Linked DNA regions of Homo sapiens: region 1 is linked to region 2. The links come from fine-mapping of genetic effects on gene expression. A gene starts in region 2. The other region holds a variant in brackets. All regions are shown on one strand. Distances are between the middles of the regions.

Evidence for each region. PIP is the estimated chance that this variant, and not a neighbour inherited with it, causes the effect.
Region 1: its variant is the best candidate, but not a certain one, in a credible set for the expression of UBN2 in whole blood (TOPMed, PIP 0.61).

Annotation. Positions count from the first base shown.
Region 1 is chr7:139,128,036-139,130,953 of GRCh38, forward strand. No RefSeq gene overlaps it. Among named protein-coding and RNA genes, the nearest start is that of IFT56, 4.3 kb to the right of the region's middle. The variant C/T (reference allele first, on the strand shown) is at 1,144.
Region 2 is chr7:139,229,795-139,232,712 of GRCh38, forward strand. It overlaps UBN2 (ubinuclein 2), which reads left to right and starts at 1,443. Exons shown (of 18, transcript NM_173569.4): 1 at 1,443-2,158. The coding sequence starts at 1,691. RefSeq lists enhancers at 1,224-1,383, 1,464-1,603 and silencers at 1,774-2,023, 2,234-2,453, 2,400-2,659.

The DNA of each region.
Region 1 (2,918 bases), 100 kb before region 2:
TCCTCCCACCTCAGCCTCCCGAGTAGCTGGCACCACAGGCACACCCCCATGCTGGGCTAATTTTTTCAGTTTTTATAGAGACAGTCTCACTACATCATCCAGGCTCATCTCAAACTCCTGAGCTCAAGTGATCCTCCTGCTTCAACCTGCCAAAGTGCTGAGATTACAGGTGTGAGCCATCGCACCTGCTACCTCCTGTCAGTATTGGGAAAAATGGTCTTACTTGACCCAAGAAGACCCTGAATTACAGTGGCCAAAGTAGGGTACTTGTGAAATGCCTAAGTTAGTTTGCTCACATGCACAATTAGAAAAAGCCAGCTCCAGAATTAAACAATATAATTTGGAGAGTTATTTCCAATGCTACCCAGAAGCATGCAAAAGAGGCTGTGACAGAGTTCTTTTCCTATAGAAAGAGAATGAAAAGCCTCTAAAACTTTTATTCAGAAAAGCTGCTGAAACTGCTGCTTCTCCTCCTTCTGCTCCCCCTTCTCTCTATCCCTCCTTATCACAACTACCTTGCCCAGACTGACCTTCTCTTCCCTCTCCTCCCCTTCCACCTGCTCCCACATTTTTGGCTTCATTTAATGAACATCCAGCATCTGGTAGAGGGAAACCTGCTTTAGTTTATCAACCATGGTCTAAGGTAGAACTTAAAGGCATAGTTAAATAATTCCCCGACCTTAACCAGGATCCTATTTGTTTTGCTAGGGAATTTGAATTAAATATCTGAGCTTATGGCCCTGGTTATTCTGATTTATATCAACTAACTCACATGTGACTATCAGAAAGTAAAGCTAAAGATTAGACAGACACAAATTGTCCCTGTTTGCAGATGACATGATTGTATATTTAGAAAACCCCATCATCTCAACCCAAAATCTCCTTAAGCTGATAAGCAACTTCAGAAAAGTCTCAGGACACAAAATCAATGTGCAAAAATCACAAGCATTCTTATACACCAATAGCAGACAGAGAGCCAAATCATGAGTGAACTCCCATTCACAATTGCTTCAAAGAGAATTAAATACCTAGGAATCCAACTTATAATGGATGCGAAGGACCTCTTCAAGGAGAACTACAAACCACTGCTCAACGAAATAAAAGAGGACACAAACAAATGGAAGAACATTCCATGCTCATGGA[C/T]AGGAAGAATCAATATCGTGAAAATGGCCATACTGCCCAAGGTAATTTATAGATTCAATGCCATTCCCATCAAGCTACCAATGACTTTCTTCACAGAATTGGAAAAAACTATTTTAAAGTTCATATGGAACCAAAAAAGGGCCCGCATTGCCAAGACAATCCTAAGCCAAAAGAACAAAGCTGGAGGCATCATGCTACCTGACTTCAAACTATACCACAAGGCTACAGTAACCAAAACAGGATGGTACTGGTACCAAAACGGAGATATAGACCAATGGAACAGAACAGAGCCCTCAGAAATAATACCACACATCTACAACCATCTGATCTTTGACAAACCTGACAAAAACAAGAAATGGGGAAAGGATTCCCTATTTAATGAATGGTGCTGGGAAAACTGGCTAGCCATATGTAGAAAGCTGAAACTGGATCCCTTCCTTACACCTTATACAAAAATTAATTCAAAATGGATTAAAGACTTAAATGTTAGACCTAAAACCATAAAAACCCTAGAAGAAAACCTAGGCAATACCATTCAGGACACAGGCATGGGCAAGGACTTCATGTCTAAAACACCAAAAGCAATGGCAACAAAAGCCAAAATTGACAAATGGGATCTAATTAAACTAAAGAGCTTCTACACAGCAAAAGAAACTACCATCAGAGTGAACAGGCAACCTATAGAATGGGAGAAAATTTTTGCAATCTACTCATCTGACAAAGGGCTAATATCCAGAATCTACAAAGAACTCAAACAAATTTACAAGAAAAAAACAAACAACCCCATCAAAAAGTGGGCGAACGATATGAACAGACACTTCTCAAAAGAAGACATTTATGCAGCCAACACACACATGAAAAAAATGCTCATCATCACTGGCCATCAGAGAAATGCAAATCAAAACCACAATGAGATACCATCTCACACCAGTTAGAATGGCAATCATTAAAAAGTCAGGAAACAACAGGTGCTGGAGAGGATGTGGAGAAATAGGAACACTTTTACACTGTTGGTGGGACTGTAAACTAGTTCAACCATTGTGGAAGACAGTGTGACGATTCCTCAAGGATCTAGAACTAGAAATACCATTTGACCCAGCCATCTCATTACTGGGTATGTACCCAAAGGATTATAAATCATGCTACTATAAAGACACATGCACACGTATGTTTATTGTGGCACTATTCACAATAGCAAAGACTTGGAACCAACCCAAATGTCCATCAATGATAGACTGGTTTAAGAAAATGTGGCACATATATACCATGGAATACAATGCAGCCATAAAAAAGGATGAGTTCATGTCCTTTGTAGGGACATGGATGAATCTGGAAACCAGCATTATCAGCAAACTATCGCAAGGACAAAAAACCAAACACTGCATGTTCTCACTCATAGGTGGGAACTGAACACTATGACACAGTGAGAACGCTATGACACAATGAGAACACTTGGACACAGGAAGGGGAACATCACACACTGGGGCCTGTCATGGGGTGGGGGGAGGGGGGAGGGATAGCATTAGGAGATATACCTAATGTAAATGATGAGTTAATGGGTGCAGCACACCAACATGGCGCATGTATATATATGTAACAAACCTGCACGTTGTGCACATGTACCCTAGAACTTAAAGTATAAAGAAAAAAAAAAAGATTAGACAGACAAGGCCCATTATAGAAATCTCTTAGAAGACTTTCATAAATGCTCAGGACTGTAGGCAGACACACAAAACTGCAAAGGCATTGCTTCAAGCCACTCCTCACTGTTTCTA
Region 2 (2,918 bases):
ATGGATCAAAAAGTTGGAAAACTCAGTGGGTGAGAAGTTAGAAGATAATGTTGGATAAGTAACACACCTGTAGAAGGATTTGGCCCACAGACCACCAGTTTGCAGTCTCTGAGCTAAATTGTGGAGGATATTGAATATGAGTATACATACATAGAACTCAGTTTGTAGGTAAGTTGCAGCCAGAACAGAGAACGATATAATAAAAACTCTTTTAGAGACATTAATATGACCCCGTCTCAAGACTGGTGGGAACAGAGACTGAAGGCAGAAAGGTCATTTAAGTATCACTAAGGCAATCTAAAAATGAGACCCGAATTCAGAATCAGAAAAGGAGCAATAGGGAAGGAGATAATGTAGGTAAAACATGGCGCCGAGTAGAAAAGATAGGGTTTTAGAGCTGGGAGAGACCTTTGGAATCATAGATTTCATCACCATCTTCGTCCAAGTAGGGAAAGTAATAACAGGAGAGGAAAAAACGGAACCCTCTCAGAATTTGTCAATGACGTCACACTGACTTAATAAAAGAGCTTTCAATAGTTAATGCAATTAACAGAAGGCTTGGATTCCCTTCAGGATGTGAAGGGCGAGCCCTCAAATTTACTTTTTATTCAATGGATTAAAATGGCCAGTAATTCTTATCCTTTTAAACCCGACTTCCAATTAATTAATTACAAGTGAGCCTATGGGGCGTGCCCAATCAATTCCTTCCCCATCCTGAAATGGGTCCTTTAGCATTCTCATAAACAGTACGTTTCCTGAAATACCACTAAACCCTCTTAAGAAGTTTTCTATGATTTCAGCAGTTTAGGCCTTCTGAATGAGCCCAGAACTCCTCATCTGCTTGTTAATTTTCCAACTGCAAAGCGTTATTGAACATTTAATGACCCTGCCCCACGCAACGCCCACTGCGGCCGGGCGAGGGAAACCGGAGTAGGTCGAGGAAGGGGAGGCCTGCGCTTTCGGGAGGGAAGCCGCTGGGGCTAGTCTGGCTGAAGCTGGGCACTTCCTTTTTTCCCTCGATACTTAAGGCTACGGGGACACAGGGCGGGCAGGCACAACGGCTGGCGCGTCTCTCTACCCTTGCCCAGAGTCCGCCTTGAATAATCAGCTAACAACCCCAATTCCCTTGAACCCAGCACGGGAGACCCGGCGCCAATGGCTAGGTCGGTCTCAGTCCCATCCCGATGCTAGCCCCGGGAAGCTCCTGGAGCGCCTCTGGTTTCCGGGTGCGAATAGTAAACTGCTCGGGAAACCCCAGAACCCTCCCTTTGAGGAAGGGTGCAGACGGCGTCTCCGTTTCCACGGAAACAGGCCGAGCCATGTCGTCACTTCCGCCGACCTGTCTGGACTCCAGACTGTTGGGAGGAAAAGAGGAAAACTGAGCAACAGCCACGACAGTGGACGCGAGCGTCTCCTCTGTGCGCATGCGCCCGCTCAGCGGCCTGCTTCTATTTATGTGGGGGATCCAACATGGCGGCCGCGGCGACCCTGGCGATGGCGGTGAAGCCCATCAGAACGTAGTAGCGGGGAAGGGGACACGGTCCGCACTCACCGTGGCGCCGGCGGAGACGGCTGAGGGTGGTGGAGGGAAGAAAAGCGACAGAGAGCAAGAGGAAGGGCGGGCAGGCACGCAGCGCGCCGTAGAAGCGAGCGCCGGCTCGAGCAAAAGCGGAGGGCCAGAACAGTGGGGATGGCGGAGCCGCGCAGAGTAGCGTTCATTAGCTTGTCACCGGTGCGGCGGCGCGAGGCCGAGTACCCGGGGCCCGAGCGTGAGCCCGAGTACCCCCGCGAGCCCCCCCGGCTGGAGCCGCAGCCGTACCGCGAGCCGGCCCGGGCGGAGCCGCCGGCCCCGCGGGAGCCTGCCCCCCGCTCGGACGCGCAGCCCCCGTCGCGGGAGAAGCCGCTCCCCCAGCGCGAGGTCAGCCGCGCCGAGCCGCCCATGTCGCTGCAGCGGGAGCCCCCGCGGCCCGAGCCGCCGCCGCCGTTCCCGCCGCTGCCCTTGCAGCCGCCCCCGCCGCGGGAGTCGGCTTCCCGGGCTGAGCAGCCGCCGCGGCCGCCGAGGGAGACGGTGCGCCTGGAGCTGGTGCTTAAGGACCCCACCGACGAGAGCTGCGTGGAGTTCAGTTACCCGGAGCTGCTGCTGTGCGGAGAACAACGGGTACAGAAGATTCTTCCCTCCTGCCCCAGACCCCGGGAGCCTCAGGACCCGCCGCCTTCCCCAGCTGGTTTGCACCTTGGGACGCCCACCGAGCGCGTCCGGGTCGCCCCGAGGGTGGGGTGCGGGGGGCCGGGGCCGAGCGGGTGGACGGGGCGGTGAGCGCTGCTTTCTCCACTCCCCAGGGTGGCCGAGGCTCTCACCCGGCTGCGCCGAATCCCCAAACCCCCGGCACTCGCTCCCAACGCCGCGCCGAGCTCGTTTTCTTGTGCACCTTTCGGAACCTCAGATTTTCCTTCTTTCCTTTCTGCTCCCCACACAAAATCCTGGGGCCCTGCAGGCCGTGTGGCTGGGTTCTCCCTGTGGCGCTACAGCTGTCGTTCCAGTAGAAAGGAAGAGAAAACCTTGGGGGACACGCCCCCCAGTCTGAAGCAGAGATTGTGTAACCCCTCTCGTATCATCCTCATCCTCATCACTGTTTGTTTTGCTGGGCGCCGTGGCTGCTGAGGTGTGCTTGCGTGCCTGTGATATTTTTCTTAATCGAAGGGAATTTAAGAATAATTAAAGGTTTTCAGAGACTAAGGATCCCACTTTAGGAATGGAGAAGTGGGTTAGTTAATCTGGTTACTAATTTTTCTCTCGTGTTGGTATTGGAAAACCTTTTTAGCTTTCCTTTTTTGTGGAGTTCGTTCATATTGTAATTGAATGGGAAGGTGTCTCCTGTTTTATTTGACACCTACCCGTCATATTATTTAAGTGTACT